7 linked regions of the Homo sapiens genome follow. The protein of the gene in region 6 purifies or fractionates together with the protein of the main gene of each other region. This does not show direct contact. Each region holds a gene or a part of one and is shown on either strand. Other genes may lie near its edges.

Region 1 (3,211 bases), on a different chromosome or scaffold from region 6:
CATTGGCTTGAACACCTGGCCTATTATCAGGGACCTTGTGGATGATATCTTCACTGTCACAGAGGATGAAATTAAGGTGAGGCTCCAGCAAGAAAAGAAATAGCAAAGCATGGTGTAACTTCTTAGGCAGAAGAAACTTCCCTTAGGAGTAGCAAGTGACCCACGGGAACCTGACTAGGTAACTTCATGACATGGGAGGGTACCCTAGATGTATTAATGACAACCCTCTTGACAGAAGCAGAGTCAGAATTAAAGAAAAGCTTTGGGAAGCGTGTGTACACAGTGATAAGAAAATTCAAACTGGACACGTATTCTCATCTGAACTTTATAGGTAAACCAACTAGACTCCCCTTTCACTAATTCCTACTCCCTTCCATATCAACAGTGTGCAACCCAGCTGGTGTGGGAGAGGATGAAACTACTCATTGAACCTACAGCTGGTGTTGGAGTGGCTGCTGTGCTGTCTCAACATTTTCAAACTGTTTCCCCAGAAGTAAAGAACATTTGTATTGTGCTCAGTGGTGGAAATGTAGACTTAACCTCCTCCATAACTTGGGTGAAGCAGGCTGAAAGGCCAGCTTCTTATCAGTCTGTTTCTGTTTAATTTACAGAAAAGGAAATGGTGGGAATTCAGTGTCTTTAGATACTGAAGACATTTTGTTTCCTAGTATTGTCAACTCTTAGTTATCAGATTCTTAATGGAGAGTGGCTATTTCATTAAGATTTAATAGTTTTTTTTGGACTAAGTAGTGGAAAAACTTTTATACTTAACTGAGACATTTTGTCAAGGCTAAAAAAAAGTCTTGCAAAATGGGGCAGTGGACTGACAGGCTGACATAGAAAATAAACTTTGCCCAATCACAACTTGTGCCTCCCATCCCTGGAGTACTGACTGGCACCGGTAAGACAGAATCTCTTTGAATCCATTACTCCATGCCCCCTTGAGGCACTGTTGAAGAAATCTCACTTTTCAGCCAGGGTACTGGTTCTGGTACATATGGATCATAAGTCCATTTGGGGAAGACTCGTTTATACAGGTTCATCAGTACTGTGTCTTGAGATTTTAGCTTCCCATCAAAGCTGCATTTCATGTGGCCATGGGTACCTAGAAAGACATCAGAACAAGTCGGTCAAATTAAAAGTAGAAAATTTTAAAGCAATGACTTCCAACCCAACAGTCATTTAGCAACACTGCAGAAATGCAGACATGGTCTCAAATCCCGTGTTTCCTTACCTAAAGGTTCCTTGATATGTCCTCTCCGGCCCCACTTCGTTCTCAGTTCCACTGGTTTAAACCACAGCACATCCTCTTAGAATCAAACACATTAAAGACCAAGATGAAACATTTACCCACAAAATGTAAACCCAACCTTTATACCACAAAGGCAATCAGATCCCATCCTCCTCCTTCATACCCACCTCTGTTGAAGAACATGTAACGTACTACTGCCATCTTAGTAAAAATTTTGAAAGGATGACCACTCAGAACAACTCTCTTGATGACCATTCTGTCTGGATCTACTGACATAAGATGGCCTGTAGCAATGAGGCTGTGCATTCCTAAAGGACAAAAGCAAAGAAGCTATTTAGGAATTTACAGGCCAAAGTCTTCATTTATTGCCCAGTCCATTTAAAGACCCATGCAAGAGCCTGGTTTGTCATCCCTGCCCTAGCCCAATCTGAGGCTAAGATTGGTAAACTGTAAGCCCACACTTAACCTTGTCAATAGGTTCTTGAAAACTTGTACTTCAAGAGAAATGATGTATAACAAAACCATACTTTTTCTCATCAGTTGTTACAAGGAAAGGATGTTGAACAAAAGGCAGTTATTTGAGGACTGGCTATACACTGTTTCACGTAAAAGTTGGAGTTTTCATTGTTCTATTAACAATGTTAAATGAAGACTTACTGTATTTTGAAAACCATCATTACCTTCTCCATACCATTTGGCTCCCAAATTTAAATAAACAAGAGAAAACGGTGTTCATCTATTAAGGACCTGCAGGGTCTGTTCATCTCTGTGGCTCAACTTACCATTGCTTTTTTGCTTGAAAAGCAGCACAGATGCAGGAGGAAAAGTGATTGGCGCATAGACTGTCGCCACCAGGGCCATGTCAGCAGTCAGGAATCTCTGCAATTTATGTTTGTCCGCTGCCATAAGGGTTAAAAAATGAAAAGCAAAACCATTTTGAGAAACCAGAGGTGATAGAGGCCTGTGAAAAGCTGTATTAGTGCAACTCTTAAACCTATGGCAGCTTCTACTTCTCTAAACCACCAGTTCTCAAAAATTTTCGCTGCCTCAATGCACCTAAAAGATACGATCTAGTCCTATCAGTAACTTTTTTTTTTTCTTTTTTTTTGAGTTTGAGTATCGTTCCTGTCACCCAGGCTGGAATGCAATGGTGTGATCTCAGCTGACTGCAACCTCTGCCTCCCGGGTTCAAGCAGTTCTCCTGCCTCAGCCTCCTGAGTAGCTGGGATTACAGGCACATGCCACCACGCCCGGCTAATTTTTGTATTTTTAGTAGAGACCGGGTTTCACCATGTTGGCCAGGCTGGTCTCGAACTCCTCACCTTGTGATCCACCCACCTCAATCTCCCAAAGTGCTGGGATTACAGGCGTGAGCCACCGCGCCAGGCTGTATCAGTAACTTTTTATTTATTTATTTATTTTGAGATGGTGTCTCGCTCTTGTTGCCCAGGCTGGAGTACAATGGTGCCATCTCTGCTCACTGCAACCTCCACCTCCCAGGTTCAAGTGATTCTTCTGCCTCAGGCTCCCGAATAGCTGGAATTGCAGGTGCCTGATCAGTAACTTTTTTATCTGGAGTCAGAATCTTGGAGCCTAGACTGTATTTGATGTTCTACCTTCAAGGTAGCCCTCACCTCCTTTTTAAAATACTAAACTTAAAGGAAAATAAAATATTTTAAGGCAAAGAAAAATTAATCTCACTTAGAGATTGTGATTCTCACAATTGGTGAGAATAAAAATTATCCAAAACACCATTAATACTGCTTTCTTCATATTCCTCCTGCCACTGCTGAGAGTGAGTGAACTAGGACGATGTTCAGAAGCCCCCAAGTTAGTGGGCAACATATCTTCCTGCTCCTACTGTGTAGGAGACAATCATTTCTGCTGCAAGTCCCGTCCAGTAGTCTCTCAGTATCTCAGGACCCCTACCTCTGCTTTACCCAACTATGAGCCATACCC
Region 2 (4,430 bases), on a different chromosome or scaffold from region 6:
GAGGAGATGGGTGGTCCTCACCAGGTGAACCCCTCCCCCATGGCCCAGCCCAAGACAGGCACCAGGGCTCACCGTGTTGTGGAAATCCTCAATTGTGAATTCAGTGAAGCCCTGGGACACCAGGTCTTCCTTGCTCTTGGCAGACACAGCCTTGAACCTGGGGGTGGGATGGAAAGGCGGGCCCAGCATGGGCTCCTCGACCAGCCCAGACGCCAGGGCCGAGACAGCACTGCCCCGCCTGGCAAGGCCAGAGTCCAGCCCATCGCCCGGGAAGGAGGGAGACACCCTACTCGAGACACATCCTACTCGCCCGGGGAGGAGGTAGACACCCACCTGCCTCGGTGCCCAGTGCCCACCCTTCTCACCGCTGCAACTCCTTGCTGTCATCCAGCAGTGCCTCCAAGTGGGAGAATCCGAAAGCCCGATAGAAACAGTTGCCGTCAGGCCTGGTCTTGCGGATGTACGAGTACTTTTTGTGGAGGTCCTGCGGAGACAGCCCCACCCCGACAGGTTAACATCAGGCCAGAACGGGGGCTGGCCAAGGAAATGTCCCCCAGCAAAGGTCACACTCCAAAGGTGGCAACTGAGCTCCCAGCAGCCACCTGCCACCCTGGGTCCCTGAAACAGGCTGCTGAATGTGGCAATGGGAGCGGCCCACTGCCCAGAGTCCTCCCAAAAGACGGCAGGAAGCTGGGCACTTAAGGACAAACTAGTTGCATGGGTCACTAAAGTTCTGCGGGGCCTACAGGACTGTACAACAACAGGTGAGTGAATGTCCTTGAGCAATGCGTTTCCTCCAGTCTTTCAGCCCAAGAGAACTTCAGGGCAAGCAAGTCAGGGCCAGGGTGGAGTGCTGGCCTCCACGCCTCAACCAGGTGGCTGGGGCCCTCTGCACAGCCCAGCTCAGCCCCGCTCCCGCCACACTGAGAAGAGTTCCCCCACCTCTAAGCCTTGCCCGCAGCCCTCCTGGGGCTAGAAACAGCCTCCCTCCTCTACTTGTTTTTTTGAGACAGAGTTTTGCTCTTGTTGCCCAGGCTGGAGTGCAGTGGCGCGATCTCGGCTCACTGCAACCTACACCTCCCGGGTTCAAACGATTCCCCTGCCTCAGCCTCCCAAGTAGCTGGGATTACAGGTGCCCACCCACCACGCACACTTCACCTGGCAAGCACACTTCACTCCCCTGGCCTGGGCACCCTCCCCTCTCCCCTACCCATCTTGCTCCTACCCCCAGCTGATGACCTTGTCTTTTTTCCTCAGCCCCCACCAGCACATCTGCCTTTGGCCTCCTCCCACAATCCTCAGAGGATCTGTTCCAGCTGCCACCTAAGCTGCCTCTCCACTCCACACTAGCCCACCCCCACCCTCAGGCTCAAGCACATCATTCCAAGCTGGGCGCCATGGCTCACACCTATAATCCCAACATTTTGGGAGGCCAAGGTGGGAGGACGCTTAAGCCTAGGAGTTCGAGACCAGCCTGGGCAACACAGTGAGACCCCCGTCTCTCTAAAAAAAATAAGTGGCTGGGCGCGATGGCTCACGCTTGTAATCGCAGCACTTTGGGAGGCTGAGGTGGTTGGATCACCTGAGGTCGGGAGTTCGAGACCAGCATGACCAACATGGCGAAACTCCATCTCTACTGAAAATATAAAATTAGCTCGGCATGGTGGTGCATGCCTGTAATCCCAGCTACTCGGGAGGCTGAAGCAGGAGAATCGCTTGAACCCGGGAAGCAGAGGTTGCAGTGAGCCGAGATTGCGCCATCGCACTCCAGCCTGGGCAACAGAGCAAAACTCCATCTTGAAAAATAAGCAAGTGAGCTGCACATGGTGGTGCATCCTGTGGTCCCAGCCACTCGAGAGGCTGAGGTCGGAGGACTGTGTGGGCCCAGGAGGTCGAGGCTACAGTGAGCTGTGATGGCACCACTACACTCTAGCGTGGGTGACAGAGTGCGTGAGACCCTATCTCAAAAAAAAAAGACATCATCCTAGGAAGTACCCCCATCATCAATTTTTCCCACCCTACTGGTTTAGACCCAACAGCATATACACATTCAGCTACTTCTTTAAAAGGAAGGGAATCCTGGACTTTACGTTTCTGTCTGGCTACCCTTCAATTTCTCTGCTTTCTTTACAGCAAAACTCCTCATGAAGCTGTCCGTGCTGCCTCCACCTCTTTTCTCCCTCGGGAGGCTTTTGCTCTAGCCAAGGTCAGCTGAACGCCCTCAATCAGAGGGGGCAAACCCAGCGCCCCACCCCCACTGGCCCCTTAGCAGAACTGAGGCCACTGGCTGTGGCCCTGCCTAGATGCCTCCTTCCCTGGGCTGGCGCCCCCACCCTCTCCTTGTCTTCCTCCTGCCTCCAAGGCCACTCCTCATCTCTCTAAGCTCTGAGGGTCAGGGATGCCACCAAACCATACAGCACCCTTCGAGACATGGTGTGTCACCTGCAAGAAAACAGTCACTGAGGCTGGGTGTGGTGGCTCACGCCTATAATCCCAGCACTTTGGGAGGCTGAGGCAGGCAGATATCGAGGTCAAGAGATCAAGACCATCCTGGCCAACATGGTGAAACCCCGTCTCTACTAAAAATACAAAAATTAACTGGGCGTGGTGGCACACACCTGTAGTTCCAGCTACTCTGGAGGCTGAGGCAAGAGAATCACTTGAACCCAGGAGGTGGAGATTGCAGTGAGCCGAGATCGCTCCACTGCACTCCAGCCTGGGCAACAAAGGGAGACTCCGTTTCAAAAAAGGAAAAAGGAAAACAGTCACTGCACACTTAGCCACTGTGCCTGCCATGTGACCACGGGCATGAGGGCTGTCTCCCATGTGCCTACCCCGCCCTGCTCAGGCCTGGGACAGCTTCCACTTTTCTTTTTTTTTTCTTTTCTGAGACAGGGCTTTCTATGTCACCTGGGCTGGAGTGCAGTGGCAAGATCACGGCTCACTGCAGCATCAACCTACCAGGCTCAAGCAATTCTCCCACCTCAGATTTCAGAGTAGCTGGAACTACAGGTGCACACCGCCACACCCATTTAATTGTTGTATTTTTTGTAGAGACGGGATTTCACCATATTGCCCAGGCTGGTCTCGAACTCCTGGGCTCATGTGATCTGCCTGCCACGGCCTCCCAAAGTGCCGCACCCGGCCAGCTTCCTCTTTGAAACTACACTCACTCTCATGGCCAGGTACAGTGGCTCACACCTGTAATCCCAGTGTTTTGGGAGGCCAAGGGGGGAGGATCAAGTTGAAGGCTAGCCTGGGCAACACAACAAGACCTCATCTCTACAAAAATGTAAATTATACTTGCTCTCTTGACGACATCAGTCTCAAGCAATTTTTTTTTTTTTTTTTTGAGACAGTCTCGCTCTGTCGTCCAGGCTGGAGTGCAGTAGCGCGATCTCGGTTCACTGCAACCTCCGCCTTCCGGGTTCAAGCAATTCTCCTGTCTCAGCCTCCTGAGTAGCTGGGACTACAGGCGCGCGCCACTATGCCCGGCTAATTTTTTTGTATTTTTAGTAGAGATGGGGTTTCACCATGTTGGCCAGGCTGGTTTTGAACTCCTGCCCTCAAGTGATCCACCCACCTTGGCCTCCCAAAGTGCTAGGATTACAGGCATGAGCCATTGCCCCTAGCCAAAGTCTCAAGGATTTAAATAGCCCCAAGTGTGAATCTCAACTCTCAACTCCAATTACGATCCTCCTATCTACCAGCCTCACCACACCTCCTCTGAACTGTCCAACAGGCATTTCCACTGAGTGCAGCTGAGATCAACCTCCGAACAACTGCTCCTCCCCGAGGCTGCCCCACCTCAGTCACCCACAGCACCCAAAGCCTTCCAGTCGCTGCCGACTCCATCACCATATCCATCCCTTCAATATGTCTGGTATCCAACTGCTTCTTACTCCTCACCTCTACCACCCGCTGCCCGCCTCCAGCAGATTTTACTGCACAAGTCTCCTGGCAGTGTCCCTGCCTCCCCTTCACCCTCTGGAGTTTATTCTCACCCCAGCAAGAGAATGGCCAGGGTCGGCTTGGCGTGATGGCCCAGGCCTGTAATCCCAGCACTTTGGGAGGCCAAAGTGGGTGGATCATTTGAGGTCAGGAGTTCAAGACCAGCCTAGCCAATATGGTGAAACCCCGCCTCTACTAAAAATACAAAAATTAGCCAGGCATGGTGGTGGGCATCTGTAATCCCAGCACTTTGGGAGGCCAAAGTGGGTGGATCATTTGAGGTCAGGAGTTCAAGACCAGCCTAGCCAATATGGTGAAACCCCACCTCTACTAAAAATACAAAAATTAGCCAGGCATGGTGGCGAGCATCTGTAATCCCAGCTACTCAGGAGGCTGAGGCAGGAGAATTGCTTGAACCCGGGAGGTGGAGGTTGCAGTGAGCTGAGATGGTGCCATTGCACTCCAGTGCACTCCAGCCT
Region 3 (4,430 bases), on a different chromosome or scaffold from region 6:
CTAAAACCAGCTTGGGAGAAACTCAAGGAGAGAAAGAAGACAATGGGCCATAAGCTCAATTTCAAACCATGCGGATTGGGCAGAATAGGGAGGACAGAAAATCAAATAAAAGGAAAAGTGGTATATTAGTTTGCAGATAGTATATACCACCTCCAGGTCTGTCCTATGGGTGGGTTGAAGGTTGATGAGATTTTAGGCATGATTCCTGCATAACCTGGAGTAGTACTAGTCACCTTGATTGGAAGATTTCAAGTGCCCTGGCCCCGGGTGCCAGCTTACCTAGTACGTGACTCCCAGTCTCTTTCACTAAGGGACTCCCAGACCCCCCAGGGCTGTTTGGCTAAGTGGCTGTGCCTCAGAGGGCAAGATCTGAGGTTCTAAATCAGACAGGGAAAGTGGCCACTGTTACTCTCTGAGCCTATTCAGGCTGTACGCCAACACTGCAGCCAGGGTACTTCAAAACCATGATGACAAGGAAGATGGACAGAGCTGTAGAGTAAAACTGTCCGGGATGGATCAATATATTGCTGACCATCCATCCATTTCAAAAGGAGGGGTGCAGAAACAGAAAGACTCACAAAAGCACAAATAATCCAAGTTATCTTACAATTGCATATAAACCTCCTTCTCATCCCATTTACATTTCTCTAAAGACCTAGCATAGGGGAATATTAAAATGAGTTTTTCCCAGAGATAATCCACATACAGCCAAGAACTGAGGACTGTGGCTGTCATCCCTTTTGTTTTCTATCCTTGTCTAGAATAGCTAAAAGTCATTCCATAAAAAAATCTTCATTTGATCTTAGTCTGAGGAGGAGAAAGGAAACTGCCTTCTAACTCCAGCCCCTAAATGCCTCATGTTCAAAAACATTTAAAGCCTCCATGCTTCTATCCCATCCTCCACTGGACAGTTTTACTCTGCAGACCTCACAAGGGGAAGAGACAATGATTCATGGATCATAGCTGTTTCTAACCCTTGATTAATGATCTTTAAACATAAGGCCAGCAGGCCCCTCAGTGACCCAGCCAGGGACTCACTGGAATTTAAAACGATTAGCTACAACAATAGCACAGTGGCAGAGCATTGCATGCGAGATGGCAGATGAAAAAAACATGCAGAGAAGAAGCATTGAATGGTCTTACTTGTGCAAACTAGTGTCCAGGCAAGGTGGTGAGGAGGGAGGATGGGGGAAGCATTAGGAAAAACTCAGGTAAGTTCAAGTGCGCCAACAGTCAATGAACACAATCAAGCATACTCCAGGATCTTCTAAACTGTAAGGAAGTACTGTTTCTCATCTCAGGAGTGTCCAGTAATATCTACCTTTTGGAGAAATGAAGCCTCTGCCAGGGCCCCATCAAACTATGGCTAGGTCATTTTTTCCCCTTTTACTGCGGGTAGTTATGCCATAAAGAGAGAAGCTAAATTGTTTCTAATGAGGTTTTTCTTAATTTACTTCCCTTATTCCAGCAGTTCAAAAGCCATGAGCAGAAAGCCTCACTGACCCAAGGCAGGCTGTGGGCCCAGGGGTTAGGGTCGGGGTGTGTGTGTGGGTGGAATTCTATTTGGGAATTAGTTTTCCAAACATTTTAAGAAAAATCTCCAAGCAAGCCTATTGCCCCAATTAACCTGGGAGTGTCTGAAGTGCAAAGAGATCTTCCCAGATTGAGGAGGAAAGGGCTACAGCCCGTGCACTTTCCTGGTCCATTCCTGTTTTAGAAGATTTTACTTCCTGCTAAAATTGTTTTAAAGGGATAGTAGAAAAATCAGGATTGGCCAGGCACAGTGGCTCATGCTTGTAATCCCAGCACTCTGGGAGGCCTAGGTGAGTGGATCACCTGAGGTCAGGGGTTTGAGACCAGCCTAGCCAACATGGTGAAACCCTGTCTCTACTAGAAATACAAAAAATTAGCCGGGTGTGGTGATGGACACCTGTAATTCCAGCTACTCAGGAGGCTGAGGCAGGAGAATCTCTTGAACTCGGGAGGTGGAGGTTACAGTGAGCTGAGATCACGCCATTGCACTCCAGCCTGGGCAAAAAGAGTGAAACTCCATCTTGAAAAAAAAAAAAATTCACGATCATCTGTAGCAAAATTTAAATCTTTTATGCTTTCCTCCCCCATCCTCCCCACTATGGGAATCGGAAAATGTTTATGTTTAAGTTAAATTAGCAATTTAAATCTTTAAGGGATGTTTGAGGACATTTTTCCTTTAGTAGCCCAATTTCTTCCACAGTGGAGGAATCACAGGAAGAAAGTTATGGAGCAGTGAGGGTCAACACAACTTGACTATTCCTTTAGACAGAAATCTGGAGACCCGGCTGGCATGGTAGCTCACGCCTGTAATCCCAGCACTTTGGGAGGCCAAGATGGATGGATCACTTGAGGCCAGGAGTTCGAGACCAACCTGGCCAACATGGTGAAACCCCATCTCTACTAAAAATACAGAAAATTAGCCAGGTGTGGTGGCACATGCCTGTAATTCCAGCTACTTGGGAGGCTGAGGCAGGAGAATCGCTTGAACCGGGGAGGCAAAGGTTGCAGTGAGACAAGATTGTGCCACTGCACTCCAGCCTGGGGGAAAGAGTGAGACTCTGTCTCAAAAACCAAAAAGAAATCTGGAGACCCCCTGAAAGGTTCCACAAGAGTCTATCCATATTGGTTGTCTCTAGGGAAGAGAACTGAGTGGTGGTAGGCAGAGGTGGGAGGCAGATTTTTCACTACTTACCCTTGAATCCTCTGTTCCCTGTGCATACATTACCTACTTTAAAAACTGATAAAATTAAAGTTGAAAATAAACTGAAGATTAAGGCGGAGAATGCTGTTGTCAGGGGTTAAGAAGGTGACTGAGGCTGGGCATGGTGGCTCACGTCTGTAATCCCAGCACTTTGGGAGGCCAAGACAGGCGGATCACGAGGTCAGGAGATCGAGACCATCCTGGCTAACACATGAAACCCCGTCTCTACTAAAAATACAAGAAAATTAGCCGGGTGTGGTGGTGGGCGCCTACAGTCTCAGCTACTCGGGAGGCTAAGGCAGGAGAATGGCGTGAACCCGGGAGGTGGAGCTCGCAGTGAGCCAAGATCACGCCACTGCACTCCAGCCTGGGCGACAGAGTGAGACTCCGTCTCAAAAAAAAAAGAAAAAAAAAGAAGGTGACTGAAAATCTCATGGTTCAGCCACAAGACAGGTCATGTGCACTGTCACTTGTACTAGGTCTTGGGCAGGTAGGCAGGAAACAGACAGGCTGCTGGTGAGATCCCAGGCCTCACGGACATGACATTTCTAGATTATCTAAGCATACAATTCACTGCTCCTCAAATTGCATATTTACGTCAGTATTAAAAGCAGTGGCAGAGCCATTACTCAGCTGACTTCCCAAAAGCTGCAAGCCCCATAGGGACATGCGGGGGCCAGAGACATTAGCTGACATCAGGAAACATCTTGGCTCTTCGGGCCCCTGAAGTGGCTGAAGGTCTGCCCACCCCATTCCTCCCTAGTGACAGAGAGTCACTTAGCTGAGCCTTAGGTGACAGAAACAATTCAGCTCTTCTTGTATTTGCCATTCAGCTCATATGCACTTCTATACTGGCATCCTGGGCAACATGCCACAGGAAATGAACACTCACAGTATCCTCTCCTCATCAGCCACCCCACTAGATGCTACTAAAATAGGCTGTTCAGGCTCTGGGGGAGAAACAGCCAATCAGAGCTGCACAGTCAGGTTCTTCCACACCTGGAATGGGTGTCATCTCCTTTTTATTAAGAGATATCCCAGTATCTTCAAAAGGGAATGACAATATGTATTTTTTTGTTTAGAAAGAGGATTACTGTGAAACTACCTGTTTGTATCACAGCGACAAAAGGACTGAGTTCTATTCATTATCTCACCATGAAGGGCAGAAGCCTAGGCCTAAGTTGAACAGTCTGAACTGTGGTAGTGCAGTAAAGTTCTCAGCATACAGCTGTCTCTTGGCAACTGTGGGAGACTGGTTCCAGGACCTCCCTTGATACCAAAATCTGCATATGTTCCCATCTTCTATATAAATTGGCATAGTAACTGCATATAACCTACCTACACCCTCCTGTATACTTTGAATCATCTCTAGATTACTTAAAATACCTAGTACAATGTAAATGCTATGTAAATAGTTGTTATATTGTATTTTTAAATTTTGTTTTTTTTTTTATTGTTGTACTGGTTTTTTTTTTTTTGAGATGGAGTCTTGCTCTGTCACCCAGGCTGGGGTGCAGTGGCGCAATCTCGGCTCACTGCAACCTCCACCTCCCAGGTTCAAGCAATTCTCCTGCCTCAGCCTCCACAGTAGCTGGGACTATAAGCGCTCGCCACCACGCCTTGCTAATTTTTATATTTTTTAGTAGAGACGGGGTCTCAAACTCCTGGCCTCAAATGATCCACCTGCCTCAGCCTC
Region 4 (3,182 bases), about 13 Mb from region 6:
GAGGCTGGGTTTCACCATGTTGGCCAGGCTGGTCTCGAACTCCTGACCTCAGATGATCCACCCGCCTCAACCTCCCAAAATGCTGAGATTACAGGCATGAGCCACTGTGCCTGGCCAGTTTTATGTATTCTTTAGACTAGTGGTTTCCAAAACTAAAGTTTTCTCTAAAGCTGTGGACCTTCTCCCCCAGATAATTTTACATAGAATGCAATATATAAAGCAGTTAAAAGCGGAGTTATTCTCTAACGGAAAAGTACCAAGGGCACTCCAATTTGGCCAGCTTTTGGGGTTGCACAGAAAAGTTTGAGAACCACTAAAAAGCCTGTTACCTTGAGTATGAGCTCTAAGCCAATGGCAAATCCTGGCTCTATCACTAAGTTGGAAACTTTGGACAAATTACTTAAGCTCTGTGGCTCAGCACCCTCACATGAAACATGAGATTAATAATACTCCCATATCCATAGGGTTGCAAGGAATGAACTAGTAAGCCACTTTCCCACAATTCCATGACTATACATTGATTAGACCTCTTCTTCCCCTTTAACTCTTTACTCATCCTTTAAACCCATTTCCCTTCTTCCTGAAGTTTCCCGATATCCTTAGTGTGCGACAGATAACCCTCCTGTTTCCACAGCACCTGTTACTTTATACTACTATTGCTGTAGCAGTTCCCCTTTTCCTGAGTTGGGGAATGTATCCTTTCTTTGTCTTTGTCCTATGTAGAAAATTAAAACTGGCAATGCTGTCAATGCAAGTGCTGGGGCAACTGTAGACAGACATGTCCTGGCCCTTGAGAAATTAGTATCTAGGTAGAAGGCAGCAGAAAACAAGGGACTGGCTGTCTAGGTGAAAAAAGTGGCAGGAACACAGGCACACAGATCTGAGTTGTTAGGCTAGAGTAGTGCTGTCTATCACTGCAAGCAAGCCACAGATGTCATTTTAAATGTTCTGGTAGCTCTATTAAAAAAAGAAACAGATGAAATTAACTTTAATGCATTTTATTTAACCCAACACATATATTTCAACATGTAATCAGTATCAAATATTTTTGACATATTTTACATTTTGTGTGCTGTCTTAGAAATCTGCTGTGTATTTTACACTTACATTACATCTCAATTGAGACTAGTCATATTTCAAATGAGTCCTATGTGACTAGTGACTTCGGTACTAGTAGTCCAGGGCTAGAGGAAAATGTTCATACGGAAGAGTAACAGAGGTTCAAGTTGGAGGTAGGGGTCAAACTAGAGGGGGTCTGAATGCCACTAAAGAAAGTGGAAAGCCTTTGAAGGATTTTGAGTTGATTGTAAAGTTAATCTAGTGGTTAACACAGGATTAAGAGACCATCCTTAATGCCACTGTAGCAATCCTTCCTTCATTTCATTGAGGCTGTTCCACTCTGTCACAGCTTATCACTGGTGGTGCAGACTGCTTTTCCAAGCATGTACTTTTGTACCTTACCAACGGGTCTGGTAGGTAGTGAGGACTGAGCAATCAGGACAGCAGTATGCAGATGCTTCCCTCTTCAGATGACACACTCTTAGGCATGGCTGGGCACTAAAAAAGGTCCTTTGACAATGTTGGTGAAAGCTGAGATTCAGCCAGAGTATCAAACAGTGCGGATTGATGTGCCACAGGTACAATGTCAAGTATGACTCAGAGGACAAATTATCTAGATCCTTCTAATAATAGCATGTACCCCAACAACTGGATTCCTTAGTATTCTTCAAAATCTGAGGTAAAATCACTCTCGCTTTAAAAGATACCAACTTCACCCCTTCCTCTCTTCCCAACTCCCTCCTGCTTCCTTAAGGATCCATGCCAGCTAGCAGGTAAACCAGAGACTGACTTGCTGACATCTTCCTTACCTTATTCCTCAGGTATACATCCTAGGCAGGGAAAATTTACAGAATGCATCCCAGCCTGATTCTGGAAGAATGAGAAAGTTATCTGAGGGCTCCCAAGGGCCTCCTGTGCATACCATCTTTATCTTCCAACTTAGAACTAACCAAATTCAGTCTTTTTGTGTAATGAAAAAAGGATAAGCTGGGCACAGTGGCTCACACCTGTAATCCCAGCACTTTGGGAGACCGAGGCGGGAGGACTGCTTGAGCCCAGGAACAAGACCAGCCTGGGCAACATAGCGAGACCCTGTCTCTATACAAAAATAAAGAAGAAAAAAGGATGCAGGAAATTAGCAATAGGATAGCCAACACCCTCACTAAAGCATCAATTTCCATATGATGTTAAGTACCAGGTAGAAATCTCTCTGACTTTAAGGAGCTTTGGACACAAAAACTTTTCCTTAAACAAGCCATTTATTTTCTAAACATGGACTTCCACTAGTTGTGTAACTCTCCTAGAATTCTAGCCAATATTTAATAATTGTTGCCACACTTTTGTATTTCAACTTAAGTATTTTATATTATTAAAAACTACCAATTATCTTAACAAACCTGCACATGGAGGGAGAGGTATATGAAACTCAGCCCACTAACTAGACCAAAATCCTCCTCAATGACACTAAGGTTGTAATACTAAAAAGTCCCAATCACCCTCCCAGGATTCTATTAAAGCAAGCTGTGGTTAACAGACAAGATGCCTTTTTCGTCATCATTTTCAAAAGCATTGTCACTTTTTTTCCAAGACACAACTTCTTTGAACCTGTTTCATAACCTATCATATAAATACCAGCCTCAATACTGCTATCAAGATTAAACAATGAACAAAAAAGTGTTTTATAAGTAAGAGTGGACAATGTGAGTTTTTATTGTTTGGCTCATTAGAAATGTTCTTGGCCATCTCATGCAGGAACAGCTGGAGGAAATGGAAGAACGCCAGAGGCAGTTAAGAAATGGGGTGCAACTCCAGCAACAGAAGAACAAAGAGATGGAACAGCTAAGGCTCAGTCTTGCTGAAGAGCTCTCTACTTATAAGTCAGTTTCTGCTGCTATACAAATCTCATCTAATACTGGCTGAGGGGATGGTGGGAGGGCTTAGGGAAAATTTTACCTTAGAATCAAAAACAAAAAGAGGATTTGGGAAATGATTTTCAAATTGTGCTTATCCAAAAACACATGGAAAATGGCTCTCTCTTTTTAAAGGGCTATGCTACTACCCAAGAGCCTGGAACAGGCTGATGCTCCCACTTCTCAGGCAGGTGGAATGGAGACACAGTCTCA
Region 5 (4,214 bases), on a different chromosome or scaffold from region 6:
TTAGAAAACTCATTTTATAGTTAAATTATCTAAGGGTTCCATAGAAGGCTTTAAGAAAAAAAAATTATCCAAGGGAAAATACTCTTTCAAACAGAAACACACACCGACTCCATTCAATGGAAAACTTTGTAACTAGAGGTACCAAAGATAACCAGATAAACAAAAGATAATTTCAGTGTTAAAATCATATGAAACGTGTGTGTGTGTGTGTGAGAGAGAGAGACAGAAAGACTATCAGGATAAATAGGGAGTGAATGAATTTTAGGATAGTTACAAAACTGAAACATCTTGTAAAAACGTATTACCTTACAATAGTTATTTAAAAAGTTATAAAATAGTTATTTCCATACAAATACCTTATGGAAAGGTCCCAGAATTTTCTCCCCAGCATAGGATTTGAAGTTCTGGTTTACAATATGAGTTATCATAAGCCGAGGAGCTCCAGCTTCATTGGTCATTGCTGGAGGCGGGGGAGGAGGAATGCTGTTCAAAATCTCTTCTAAACTTCTATTATCAAGTTCCTCACTTGCAGTCTCTAAGTCAGTGAAAGGAAAGGAAAACGAAGGCAAACGGCGGGGGAAAAGCCTACATTAGTGCAATTAGTTCGGAGAACTAATGACTGCCCATCTTTAAAGTAGGGGATGGAGGGATGTTATTTATGAAACTTAGGAGTCTATATTTTCCACTTAAATATGTTATTATCTTAAACTCACGGGGGTGACTAAACCTTCAGCTTGGTTTTACTAAAAAAGAAATTCTTGAAAGAAATGCCACCGGTCACAAAATTCTATACACCTATACCTCTTAAGAGTCAAAACACTACATCATAGAGCAAATCTGGGAAAACCGTAACAAGCTATTTCCTGCTGCCTATCCTAAACAGGAGGTTAAATCCTAAGGCTCTAGATGCAATTCTCCGTACCGCTGAGCACCTGGAACCTTCATTTTGGAAACTCATGAACTTCAGCGACACTGCCACGAGGGTTTAATAATGTCACCCAACTCCTGGACTCACAAAAGCTACAGTGGCTTCAAATAAATTATCGTCTTCTCTTTAACGGCAATCTAACACCACGGAGGTGAGGTTAGGGTCAAAAAACTTTTCATCATGCTCACATAGTCATATTGATTGTCTCTGGGAAAAAAGTCCACTTGCTCTCTTGATTGACCGTCTCGATTTTAGCGGGAATACAATAAAGATATTGAATTTTTGTTTGTGACCTGTACCATTCCACAGGTCACAAACAAAAATTCACAACTGAACCCGTTTGCTCGCCCCCATCCCTTCCAGCGCCGTTACACCAAAATTGCACGGGAATCCTATCTCAAAGTTGCCAAATGGCTTTCCTGAGCCTCTACCGGACCGACACCGGACCTTCAGATGTCAACTCCGCGCTCAACAACCCCAGCCAGCCTCGGGCTGGGCGCGTTTGCCTGCCAGTCCCACAGCGCGCGTTCCCGCCGAGTCGCGGCGGGTCACTCACCTGCGGCGGTGGCTGGGCTCTCCGTGCGGCCGGACGGCGGCTCAGGCTCCGCGTCGCTGCTGGCGCCGTCAGGGGACGGCGGCGGCGGCCCTTCCTCTCTGCGCCGGGCAGTGGAGGGCTGGGTGCCTTTACGGGGCATGGTCGCTGGGGCCGGGGGACAGCCGGGAGCAAGTCAGCCCGCGGGCCGCTACACCGCGCCCGCCCCACCCGGGGAAATCTCGGTCCACCGGCTTCCGAGAGCCCCGCTTAACACTCCGCTTAGAGGCAGCGGGACTTCGGGAAGGGAGCCATCGAAAGACACGAGTGGCAAGAAGGCAGGACTGGTTTCTTAACAAGACCTATGTAAGTGGGAAAATCTAGACGTGCCTGAGGATCAATCAACGATTGAGCAACTGCTTAGTTTGTTGTTGTTGTTTTTAAGGCTCTCCACCCGTCCGCCCATAGTATAAGCGTATAATATTCGCTAACGCATTTCTAATTAAGGAACTCCCATACGCCAGCATTTCCGGACATTCCCACGCTTTCGGGGCCAGGGATGCAAGCGCGCACCGACGTGGAGAAACGAGTTCGTGTCCGGGTCAGGATCCCGTGGCTAGCAACTCTCTCCAGAGCGGTGAAGACTAACTGGCGACTCGCCGCCCGCTTTCGTCTGCCCGCCCTTTAGCTCCTGGCGCCGTTGACGGCCCGGGGCATAACGAAGTCTCCCTCCTCTCAGCGGTCGGACCGCGAAGGGCGAAGGCTGGGACTAACCACTAGCAACTTCAAGTCGGACGCTGGCAGCGCTTGCTAATTTTGGAGTGGCAAGAGTTTGTCTCTCCAGCTCCCCAGGCGGAGTCCCGTTGGACAGTAAACCATGAAAGGTCACCAGCGAAGGCTGAGACCCGGTGACTAGTCCGTTGGCAGAAGGAAGAGGGGTAGGGGGAGACGCCCTTTTCCAGATAGAGACTAGGATTTTTTAAAGAAAAGATCTGCGAGGCTCAGGGCCTCCCCGAGACATTTGAGTAGCTTGGAAAAGTGGCGCCCGGGAGCTGCGCGCGGGAGCCCGGGCCGCCGGGGAGCGGCCGAGGGGGGAGGGGTGACAGCAAGAGAAATCTCCCAGCGGCAGCTTCAAGCCCGGACTTCGCCGCTCGGGCTCAAGGCCTCTATTTTCCAGGCGCTCGCGGACAAGGCAGGAAGTAAGAGCGTGACAACCTGACCAGGAAGAGAAGTACTTTACCTGCAGGACAGTCCACTCAGACCAAGGCTGGAGACGGTTGTGTAGTACCCACCTCCCCGCTCCTACCGGTGTTTCGGCTCCGGGTCCTTCACTCGAAAATGGCGCCTAAAATACAAACTCGAACGGAAATTCGTTACAAATGCGCGCAATGATTTCTGGGATCCACTAATTTGAAAAAAAGTGCGGCGATTATCACCGCCATCTTATTGTCGCTCCTGCGCATGCGCGAACTCCTGGCGGGACCTACGCGGTAGAAGTTTCTACTAAGTGAAAAGGAAGAGCGAGGGATTCTTTTCTCTGTGGTCTACAGCAGCAGCACTATTATTAAAAATATTTGGAAAGACAACCTGGCAAGTTTTGAAAAAGATTTTTTTAAAAACGGTAGGGTTCCGCTCACAGTGGGAGGCGGGGCTCAGTGGTCCAGAAACGCCTCTTCAGAAGAGGGCGGGCTCGCCGAGAGGCGGGGTCTCGGGCCCACTCGGATGACGTGCCGCGTAGAAGTATCGCGGGAAGAGGAAGGGAGCGTAACTCTTAGAAGTCACTATGGTGACGGGGAGGTACCAGGTATTTGAGAGCAATCGCCACCGCTTTCCTGGAACTTGAGGTAAATCCCTTCACCTCTGGACCTGGTGAGAAAAGGGTTTGGAAGTTGTAGCCATCACTGGATCCCATCTTTCCTGTTTTGAAGCTGTGTGCTTCGTGGAGCATCATTTTCTGTCTCCCTGGCGGCAGCGGGGCTCCGGGTGTAGCTTTTGGGATGCGAAGGAGGAAGCCCTAAATTTTAAGGGAGTAGAGAGACAACTGGAAGACCTGGATTCGTGATAGCTTAGTCGACATGTGAATAGCGCAATAATGATTTTCGAGATCATTGGTGTTACTAGTGAAAGGTTTAGGACTTTTAAAATAATTTGACTAAAAGGCTCTTTAGTGGAAAAAACGACTCGCCAGTGTTATGGTTATTTTTATGAGGAAATTATCGATCAGCAAATATTCCCTAAGTAGTGTTTGTATACATTGCCCTGGGTAAGGCATAATTAGAATTAGTAAGCAAGTTTGGCGATTCCTGTTCCCCGAGAACTTAGTTTTAGTGGGTTTTTAACCTGAGGTCTGTGGATCTGGTGGTAGGTGATTGGGCTTCAGAGTTCATAACTCGCCTGACATTGTATACATAATTCTATGTGCATTTTTCTGGGAAGTTAGTTTTCCTACAACTTTATAATCAGAATCTCATACTTGCTCCTAATTCCCTATATTGTTAAAGAGCCACTGGCTCATTTGACTATCTCCAGTATTCATGCAACAACTCTTAAGTACTTGACATTGAGAACTACTAGCCTCCTTTTTTTTTCTTTAACTTTTGCTTACTTAGGGTCTGGCATGTTAAATCACCATTAAATCTCCCTTTTGAATGAATTTACATGATCACTCTAAATACATTATGGTTCTTCCCTGGAAGAGCATGAAGTCAGGTTCAGTGATTCTCAAAAAGGTGTGGAGAGCCACCCCCCTCCCAA
Region 6 (4,430 bases):
AGACGATCCTTCAGCCTCCTTCACCTGCTCGTTTAGTACAGCTAAAAAGAATAAAGTGATTAGTAATGGCTCAAAAAAGAACTGTTTTCTTCCTTGTTAATTGCTGGATCCAACATCACCATGAAGCAGCTCGTCTTCACTCACCCATTCTGTTCTCAATGACTTCAATAGATTTGCTGAACTGTGCCACTGCCTCATCATACTGAGAGTTGTACCCATAAGCCAAGCCCAGCTGGTAGTGGGTCTCTGCAAGGAGACGGTCGTGGGCTTCCAGGTACTGTTCCTGCAGGTTAAGGCAGGACTGGAACTCCTCCACAGCTTGCACATAGTTTTCTAACAAAGAGAAAAAGAAGAGCAAGTAAATGGACAGCATTCAACATAAAATACTTCCAGAATTCAGACCCATCCTATGGGAATGCACCCATATTTAACATTCCATTTTTGTTTATAGTTATTTCCAGGACCCTTGGCTATAAAGAAAGTCAAAATGACTTTTAAAAACCTACTGAGGCTGGGCGTGGTGGCTCACACCTGTAATCCCAGCACTTTGGGAGGCTGAGGCGGGCAGATCACAAGGTCAGGAGTTCAAGACCAGCCTGGCCAATATGGTGAAACCCCGTCTCTACTAAAAATACAAAAATTAACCGGGCGTGGTGGTGGGTGCCTGTAATCCCAGCTACTCGAGAGCCTGAGGCAGGAGAATCGCTTGAACCCGGGTGGCGGAGGTTGCAGTGAGCCGAGATTACGCCATTGCACTCCAGCCTAGGCGACACAGCAAGACCCCATCTCAAAAAAAACAAAACAAAACAAACCTACTGGAAGACTGAGTGCCACTTGGAAGAGACTGTTCATTGTTCCAGGGTCTACAGGGAACACAGACCTATCTTTTTAAAGATCAAGTTCGGTTCCAGAGAATCTATTAGAGGAAGAACGAGGGAGCTGAAGAGAGTAGGAGAGTATAAAATGGAAAATGCATTACCAGATTCAACACTAACTTCTCCGAGTTTAAGATGTGCCTGGGCAGCATAAAGCTGTGCTTCTTTTGTTTCTTGCCTAAAAGAAGGAAAATTGATCAAAAACCTTAACAGTACCTGTCTAACCCTAACTGGTTTCTATTTAACCACCAAACTCCCAACCCAAGCCTAGAAGCACCAAGAGTTTTACCTTTTAAAAATGATCTTTGCTAAATCCAGCATATCCCAGGCAAGCTCTAGGTTCCCAATCTCCTCCTCCTCATTTTCTTGAAGAGACTAAAGTATAACCAAATAATAAAAAGATAGGCATCTTTTTCAAATACAAATCTAAATGTATAACTTAGCGTAGCTTAAAAAAAGTTGATATACGATTCAAAATTTGGACTTTCTCCCTAAAATCTAGAGAATGGGTCCACATACTGTCTTAAGTCATGACCATGTCACTGATATTTTAACAGTGAAATGTTGGCTCACATACTAACACACAAGAACCCCAGGATCAAATATATCCACCCATCCTAGGCATGAATAAAGGGTCCCTAATCCATAATCAAGAGACAGTTATCTATAATAATCATGCCTAGGGCTGGGCATGGTGGGTTATGCCTATAATCCCAACACTTTGGGAGGCTGAGGCAGGAGAATAACTTGAAGCCAGGTTTGAGACCAGCCTGGGCAGCACAGCAAGACAGCCGTCTAAACAAAATAAAATTAGAGAACAAATTAGCCAGACATGGTGGCAGACATCTGGAGACCTAGCTATCTGAGAAGATGAGGCAGAAGGATTCCTTGAACCCAGGAGGCTAAAGATACAGTGAGCCCTGATCATGCCAGTGCACTCCGGCCTGGGCAGAGACAGAGATTCTATCTCTTAAAAAAATAATAATCGTGCCTAAACTAGGTAAGCTACAGTCCTGCAAACTAGCTGGGCATGTTGGCACAAGCCTGTAGTCCCAGCTACTTGAGAGGCTGAGGTGAGGCGATCACTTAAGCCCGGGTCTAGGCTGCAGTGAGCCATGATCATGATCACCCCACTGCAATCCAGCCTAGGCAACAAGAGTGAGCTCCAGTCTCCCAAAAACAGAAAAAGGCTGACAACAGTACTGAGTGGCTAACAACATACCTTGTTTTCAAGGACTGAATCATTTGGCATTTCTTCGGTCTTATCATTTTCTTTATCATCCTCTTCTGAGCCTTCAGTTTCTACAAGTAAAAATTCCTCAGTATTGAGAATATAACTAAGAACGTATTCTGACTAGTCAGAGATTCCAATACACGTCTCAACCTATATTCAGATAGGACAGGCCAGATGCTAATCCAAGTGAGTTAACACCTGAACTGAATATATCGTCAGTGGGTGCAGTCTAGTTCAAGTGTAACCTAGACTAAGAATGTGCAATCTTAGTCTATGGGTCAGACCTTCAGCAATTAAAAGGCTGAGTGTTTCTCTTATAAAAGTCAACCTGGACCATTCAGAATAAGAAACATTGGCTACTGCCTCTTATTCAATGGCTAGAAGCTCCCATTCATTCAGCCAGAAGCAGGTGGAGACCTCAGTCAGTGTTTCTGGTATCTTTAAGCCACTCATTAGATAATACTAATAGCCTGGGAAAGTACGAAAGTTAAATTATTCCAGTCCATTCTGATCAAGAATGCTCAAGAGACTAGCTTTCCCACAACAGAGATGTGGAGCAAAAAGCATAGTCCTTACCGACTTACACCAATGAGCATGCCACAGACTCCAGCCAGCTCTAGCACATACAGAATTTGAGTAAGGAATACTATAACCCCTATTTTACTCCTATACCTTTGCTAATGACACCTCTAAAATCTGCAGCCATATATCAACACCATATTTCACCATATTGAATACACTCACAAGTCAACCATCTAAAGGTCAGGCTCCTAATCAATAGCGCTACTGTGATTAGACAAATCAACAATGTTAAGTGATTAAAATAAGCTTTCTGTTAACACAAACAACTCATGAATTGGATATAATATGCCTCTCTCTGCCATCTTTCATTATGCATTTTTAACACCAGCAAAAAAGCTCAAACACTATCTCCAAACACTCTTACTATGGGAATATAAATATGGCAATTAGGACTTAGAGCAATCGTCAGGTCAAAGGAGTTTTATCAGCAGCAACCACAAAGAGATTCCGTTTTCAAAGAAGCTTAGAAAATACTTTAACAGGGTCAGGCGCGGTGACTCACGCCTGTAATCCCAGCTCTTTGGGAGGCCGAGGCGGGCGGATCACGAGGTCAGGAGATTGAGACCATCCTGGCGAACATGGTGAAACCCCGTCTCTACTAAAAAAAAAAACCAAAAAACAAAAAAATTAGCCAGGTGTGGTGGCAGGCGCATGTAGTCCCAGCTACTTGGGAGGCTGAGGCAGGAGCATGGCGTGAACCCAGGAGGTGGAGCTTGCAGTGAGCGGATTATCGCACCACTGCACTCCAGCCTGGGTGACAGAGCAAGACTCCGTCTCAAAAAAAAAAAAAAAAAAAAAAGATACTTTAACAAATTTACTGAGGACATCAGGGCATTGCCATTGATACCTGGGCACAAGTTGGGAAAGGTTTTAAAGTAATGGCAATGGCTGCCAGGCGCGGTGGCTCACACCTGTAATCCTAGCACTTTGGGAGGCCAAGGTGGGCAGATCACCAGGTCAGGAGATTGGGACCATCCTGGCTAACACGGTGAAACCCCGTCTCTACTAAAAATACAAAAAATTAGCCAGGCGTGGTGGCACATGCCTGTAGTCCCAGCTACTCGGGAGGCGGAGGCAGAACAATCACTTGAACCTAGGAGGCGGAGGTTGCAGTGAGCCTAGATCACGCCACTGCATTCCAGCCTGGGTGACAGAGCAAGACTCTGTCTCAAAAAAAAAAAAAAAAAAAAAAAAAAAAGTAATGGCGATGGCTTTCTCCTTAACCTAGCTCCCCACCATTCCTTGAAGATGGTACAGATTCCTCAAGAGGAACCAGTAATATTCTTCTGAAGCAATTATAGGAATTTTAATTTAAAAATTTGATGTAAAACTTCCAAGTAATTAAGATATTTTGTTTCAAATTAGAGGTTGTCTTCTAGTATTCTGGTATGAGTAGGAAGAGATACCAGGTAAGAATAGAAGATAACAATATCAATTTAATTTTTCCTACAAATTGGGAAGATGAAGTATTTACTTTTCTATCAATTATCCTACATATGTAAATCTACTTCAGCTTTTCTGCATATTCTGCTAGAGGATGGGCAGAGTTAATAAGACCATCCATCTGGTCTAACTTTGGGGAACTAAGCCCGGACCCACTTGGAAATGTGGATATGAGAAGATAATGGTGTATGGTGGGCCAGGTGCAATGGTTCACACCTGTAATCCCAGCACTCTGGGAGGCTGAGGCTAGTGGATCACCTGAGGTCAGGAGTTCGAGACCAACCTGGCCAGCATGG
Region 7 (4,430 bases), on a different chromosome or scaffold from region 6:
AGCCAATTTGCTCATGATCTCAGGACCTGAAAGGATACAGAATGGAGACAATAACAAAATGATAGTCTTTCCCAATTCCTCCCAAAAATCAGTTATCTTGCTTGTTTGGCCCAGAGACAGGTCCTGGGTGAGAAGGTGGTAACCTCTGCCTACTTCTCACATCCTCTACCAGCCATTATCCCAGGACAGCCACCAGGCAAGGCTGGAGAGAAGCCCAGGGACTCACTATACTCTTCTCACAGTTGAACTGTAAAGGTGACAGCAAATGCTCTAGGACCTCTGGCTAGAGCAAGAGAGATGGCACACCAGATGGCACACCACTAAACAGCATTCTCCAAGAGCCAGTGATCAAAGTTCATTTGCCCCAAACCCTCTCAAATCACTAACCATTCACCCTTTGATTTCTCATTCTAGCTTGCTCCCGCTCTGCAGTCTGTCCACAATCTTTCTCAAAGGGGGCAGGACAGGGAGCACCAATGTAAAATATCTTCCCTTTATTGCTCTTCTGTCTGTAACATACCCCAGCATAAGAAATATGCTATAAACATGAAGGAGGGCATGGGTGCAAAAAGGATGTGTTCATAAGTGCTCCAGCTCATAAGCCCAGTTCAAAATTGGGTCTAGCTAGACATAAGATGAACCAAATATCTCACCATTGATCAAGAAGAAGAAGGCTCCAGTCTCATTTGCTACAGCTCGAGCAATCAGGGTCTTTCCTGTTCCAGGAGGTCCGTAAAGCAGGATTCCTCTAGGAGGCTGTGGACCAATGCAGAGTGTGATTAGGTTCCCACCTTCTCCCAAACCCTAAAATGGCTTGACTAGCGCTCCAGAGAGGGTGAGAATCAGGCTTCAACCCTGACAATATTAAGAATAAGCCCTCCGCAGTAAATGCTAAGAAGACAATTACTTTAGGCCACACTCATTTCTATTACTAGCAGGGAAAATACTGCTAGAAAGTGGGCAACATTTATGATTGCAACTTGCATAGGAGACTAAGGGCAGAGAAACTGTAGTCCAAATGCGTTTGAAGATACATGACTAGGGAAAGGCAAGAGGCCATTACACTAAGGGCTCAATTTTAGACAGACCAAGGGCCAAAGACTAGCTAAGCCATTTAAGAGAGCAGGGTCTATTTTCTTCATTGCCAGAGGATCACTCACTCCAGTAATCATGCCCTCCAGAATTTATCACACTGGAATGCTGTTCCTTACAATCATCATTTTTCTTCTTCAACACTACCCTTTCTATGGCCTCATCCACAAGCAGAACATGTAAACTGTCCACATAGAAAATGAAATTATTTGTGTGCCACCCACTAGGAAAATGAGTAACTTCATCTTCAGTGTGTTCCATGGAAACACTTTCCCACTAGGAAAAGATTGAGAAGCTACACTCTAGACCAATAGTTCTCAAATGTTTTAGACTCAGAACCCTTTAACACTCTGAAAATTTCCTTAACTTCCTTACTTCTACTGGGTGACATTGCTCTAGACAGGCTGGCAAACTATGGTGAGATTTGTTTTTACAGGGTCCATTGATACAAGAATGGCTTTTATATTCTAAGAGTTGTAAAGAAAAACCCATATATATATGTGTGTGTGTTTTGTGCGCACACGCACACAACAGACAATTTGATTAGCCTACTCTGGTTTTAGACCATCAGCTCTAATGAATTTAGAGCCTTAGGTAAACTAAAGGATACGTTATTGCCCCTCTAATCCAAGGCAATAATGAAAGCCATGCATGAAAACAGTCCCAGGATTAGACATTGGGACAGGATTAGACATTGGCACCACTTTAGACTTGATTCCAGAGCCCAGGATGCTCACCTTCACACCAATTGCCTTAAAGAGGGCAGGATGTCTCAGGGGCAGTTCCACCATCTCCTTTATCTGAGCTAGCTGCTTCCTGCAGCCACCAATGTCATCATACCCTACTTCATTCAAGGACTCTTCCTCATCCTGAATATGGAGGAGATAAAGAAAGGAGAAGGCAAGAATATTATATCAGCAAAAGCTGAGTTTCTCTAAATCATTCCACTACCTAGTGTGCAAAAACCTACCGTATAAGAAGATTCTCAACCCGGCATGGTGGCTCACATCTGTAATCCCAGCACTTTGGGAGGCAGAGGTGGGAGGAATGCTTGAGTCCAGGAGTTCCTGGGCAATACAGCAAGACTCCATCTCATTAAAAATTAAATTAAATTTAAAAAAGATTCTCCTCTAAAGGGATCCGGCCTCAAAGAACAACTACAAAAATCCCAAGGCAAAGATTTCTAGCACAGTCCTTGCCTCTCACATTACTCGTAGTCTTACTGAGAAGGGGTCTCTAAAATCTGAAGCTGGAAACCCTGGGAATGGGCAGAGGCCTGAAGCCACCATCAGCTTTACTTCAAAAATGATTTCAATCACTTATATATTTTGGGTTCAGTCTAGTTTTTTGAAATTCCTGGCATTAGGTAAATCCAAGAAACAATTAGGCCCAGAAATGAATAGCTGGCAGGTTTCTCATCCCTGAAAGATGGTTAGTTCTCCAAAGAACACCCAGTCTTTTTCTTTTTTGAGACAGAGTCTCACTCTGTCACCCAGGCTGGAGTGCAGTGGCACAATCTCAGCTCACTGCAACCTCCGACTCCTGGGTTCAACCGATTCTCCTGCCTCAGCCTCCTGAGTAGCTGGGATTACAGATGTGTACCACCATGCCTGGCTAATTTTTGTATTTTTAGTAGAGATGGGATTTCACCATGTTGCCCAGGCTGGTCTTGAACACCTGACCTCAAGTGATCTGCCCATCTCAGTCTCCCAAAGTACTGGGATTACAGGTGTCAGCCACCGCAGCCGGCCGAGCACCCAGTCCTGACAGTTACCACATGATGCCACACTGAGTAATCATAAAATCGGATACTGGAATCAGGGAGAAAACTCACCTCTCGTTTGATAGGCTCCCCTTCGCAGTGGATCACTGTGTCTGGAGCAACAATGCAATAAGGGCTAGGATCTGTTTCCACCACTTTGAACTCCACAGCACGCATCCCACCACGGACAAGAAAAATGTCTCCTGCGAGAGCAAACAGTACAAGCACAGTTAGAGGTGTCAACTACAAGACAAAGTGAGAACTCATCAGACCCTGGGGTCAAAATGCCAAGCTCATTAGATAGTGCCCTTCATTAGATATTGCCCTACCTCTCCCCAACTCCACCCCACCTGTCTTAATAAGCAGCAGGCAAGATGAGAAAGGTAAACTGTGAAGAGTCCCTCTGACAAGAGGTCAGTGAACAAAACCTGACATGTCAGAAGCCCATCAAGTTCTGACTTCTGCCATATAGGTAGCCCAAGTTTTCACTACAACCACCAATGGTAGAACTGTGCACTCTGGACCCTGACCCAGCCAAAATGGACCACTTTCTCCTTCAGAGATCCATAAAGATAGCTTACTCTCCTGGAACAGAGAAGGGGAGAGATGGAGCAAAGGAAGGATGGAGGAAAAAAAGAGGGTAAGACATATGAATATGTGTGCAGGGTTTGCATGTGTGTGTATACAAATATATGAAAATGAGTCTAGCGGCCGGGCACAGTGGCTCACCTGAGGTCAAGAGTTCGAGACGAGCCTGACCAACATGGTGAAACCCCGTCTCTACTAAAAACACAAAAATTAGCCGGGCGTGGTGGCAGACGCCTGTAATCCCAGCTACTTGGGAGGCTGAGGCAGGAGAATTGCTTGAACCCAGGAGGCGGAGGTTGCAGTGAGCCGAGATTGCACCACTGCGCTCCAGCCTGGGGGACAGCGCGACACTCTGTCTCAAAAAAAAAAGAAAAGAAAATGAGACTAGGCTTGATGGCTCATGCCTGTAATCCCAGCACTTTGGGAGGCCATGGCAGATGGATCACTTGAGCCCAGCAGTTTGAGACCAGCCTGGGCATCATAGTGAGACCCTGTCTCTTTTTTTTTTTTTTTGAGACAGAGTCTTGCTCTGTCACCCAGGCTGCAGTACTGTGGCCCAATCTTGGCTCACTGCAACCTCCACCTCTTGGGTTCAAGCAATTCTCATGCCTCAGCCTCCCAGGTAGCTGGGATTACAGGTGCCCACGATGGGGTTTCGCCATGTTGGCCAGGCTGGTCTCAAACTCCTGGCCTCAAGTGATCCACCCGCCTCAGCCTCCCAAATTGCTGGGATTATAGGTGTGAGCCACGGTGCCCAGCTGACCCCATCTCTTAAAAAATGAATAAATAAATACAGGGGAAAAGCATAAAAGATTTAAAAAAAAAAAAAGAAAAAGAAAATGAGATAAAGATGTTCCAAGGTTTATTCCCTACAGTCAATAATCCTTAAGCTCAGAATTAGCTCTCACCTTTCCGGATGGGTCGATACGCTTCCAGGAAGTACGGCTTAAGGTATACCTCGAAGAGATTACCAGTAATGCCTTCCACT

The links.
Region 1: the proteins of NASP (region 6) and TSR1 fractionate together in Homo sapiens (co-fractionation; one large-scale study listed by BioGRID). This does not show direct contact.
Region 2: the proteins of NASP (region 6) and OTUB1 purify together in Homo sapiens (co-immunoprecipitation; one large-scale study listed by IntAct). This does not show direct contact.
Region 3: the proteins of NASP (region 6) and DCTN2 fractionate together in Homo sapiens (co-fractionation; one large-scale study listed by BioGRID). This does not show direct contact.
Region 4: the proteins of NASP (region 6) and RBBP4 purify together in Homo sapiens (co-immunoprecipitation; 5 studies listed by BioGRID and IntAct, with this or other methods). This does not show direct contact.
Region 5: the proteins of NASP (region 6) and SMC4 fractionate together in Homo sapiens (co-fractionation; one large-scale study listed by BioGRID). This does not show direct contact.
Region 7: the proteins of NASP (region 6) and VCP fractionate together in Homo sapiens (co-fractionation; 2 studies listed by BioGRID). This does not show direct contact.

Annotation. Positions count from the first base shown.
Region 1 is NC_000017.11:2,323,270-2,326,480, forward strand, and holds part of TSR1 (pre-rRNA-processing protein TSR1 homolog), read right to left. Parts: intron 2,152-3,211; coding exon 2,035-2,151; intron 1,996-2,034; exon of another isoform or gene 1,561-1,995; coding exon 1,420-1,560; exon of another isoform or gene 1,310-1,419; coding exon 1,235-1,309; exon of another isoform or gene 1,106-1,234; coding exon 927-1,105; 3' UTR 605-926; coding exon of another isoform or gene 386-604; 3' UTR 77-385; coding exon of another isoform or gene 1-76. Other genes in the region: SRR (serine racemase), read left to right, coding at 1-76, 386-604. UniProt on the Homo sapiens protein: Required during maturation of the 40S ribosomal subunit in the nucleolus.
Region 2 is NC_000011.10:63,992,584-63,997,013, reverse strand, and holds part of OTUB1 (ubiquitin thioesterase OTUB1), read right to left. Parts: intron 485-4,430; coding exon 366-484; exon of another isoform or gene 158-365; coding exon 73-157; intron 1-72. UniProt on the Homo sapiens protein: Hydrolase that can specifically remove 'Lys-48'-linked conjugated ubiquitin from proteins and plays an important regulatory role at the level of protein turnover by preventing degradation.
Region 3 is NC_000012.12:57,540,221-57,544,650, forward strand, and holds part of DCTN2 (dynactin subunit 2), read right to left. Parts: intron 2,771-4,430; exon of another isoform or gene 2,756-2,770; coding exon of another isoform or gene 2,726-2,755; intron 1,153-2,725; coding exon of another isoform or gene 1,144-1,152; intron 1-1,143. UniProt on the Homo sapiens protein: Part of the dynactin complex that activates the molecular motor dynein for ultra-processive transport along microtubules. In the dynactin soulder domain, binds the ACTR1A filament and acts as a molecular ruler to determine the length.
Region 4 is NC_000001.11:32,684,012-32,687,193, reverse strand, and holds the end of RBBP4 (histone-binding protein RBBP4), read right to left. Parts: coding exon of another isoform or gene 3,105-3,182; 3' UTR 2,937-3,104; coding exon of another isoform or gene 2,812-2,936; 3' UTR 983-2,811; downstream 1-982. Other genes in the region: SYNC (syncoilin), read left to right, coding at 2,812-2,936, 3,105-3,182. UniProt on the Homo sapiens protein: Core histone-binding subunit that may target chromatin assembly factors, chromatin remodeling factors and histone deacetylases to their histone substrates in a manner that is regulated by nucleosomal DNA.
Region 5 is NC_000003.12:160,398,236-160,402,449, reverse strand, and holds the start of SMC4 (structural maintenance of chromosomes protein 4), read right to left. Parts: upstream 2,801-4,214; 5' UTR 2,701-2,800; intron 1,892-2,700; exon of another isoform or gene 1,629-1,891; 5' UTR 1,624-1,628; coding exon 1,485-1,623; intron 536-1,484; coding exon 357-535; intron 1-356. UniProt on the Homo sapiens protein: Central component of the condensin complex, a complex required for conversion of interphase chromatin into mitotic-like condense chromosomes.
Region 6 is NC_000001.11:45,610,916-45,615,345, reverse strand, and holds part of NASP (nuclear autoantigenic sperm protein), read right to left. Parts: intron 2,178-4,430; coding exon 2,098-2,177; intron 1,251-2,097; coding exon 1,165-1,250; intron 1,054-1,164; coding exon 980-1,053; intron 334-979; coding exon 145-333; intron 42-144; coding exon 1-41. UniProt on the Homo sapiens protein: Component of the histone chaperone network. Binds and stabilizes histone H3-H4 not bound to chromatin to maintain a soluble reservoir and modulate degradation by chaperone-mediated autophagy.
Region 7 is NC_000009.12:35,062,325-35,066,754, forward strand, and holds part of VCP (transitional endoplasmic reticulum ATPase), read right to left. Parts: coding exon 4,351-4,430; intron 3,058-4,350; coding exon 2,927-3,057; intron 1,962-2,926; coding exon 1,830-1,961; intron 757-1,829; coding exon 654-756; intron 27-653; coding exon 1-26. UniProt on the Homo sapiens protein: Necessary for the fragmentation of Golgi stacks during mitosis and for their reassembly after mitosis. Involved in the formation of the transitional endoplasmic reticulum (tER).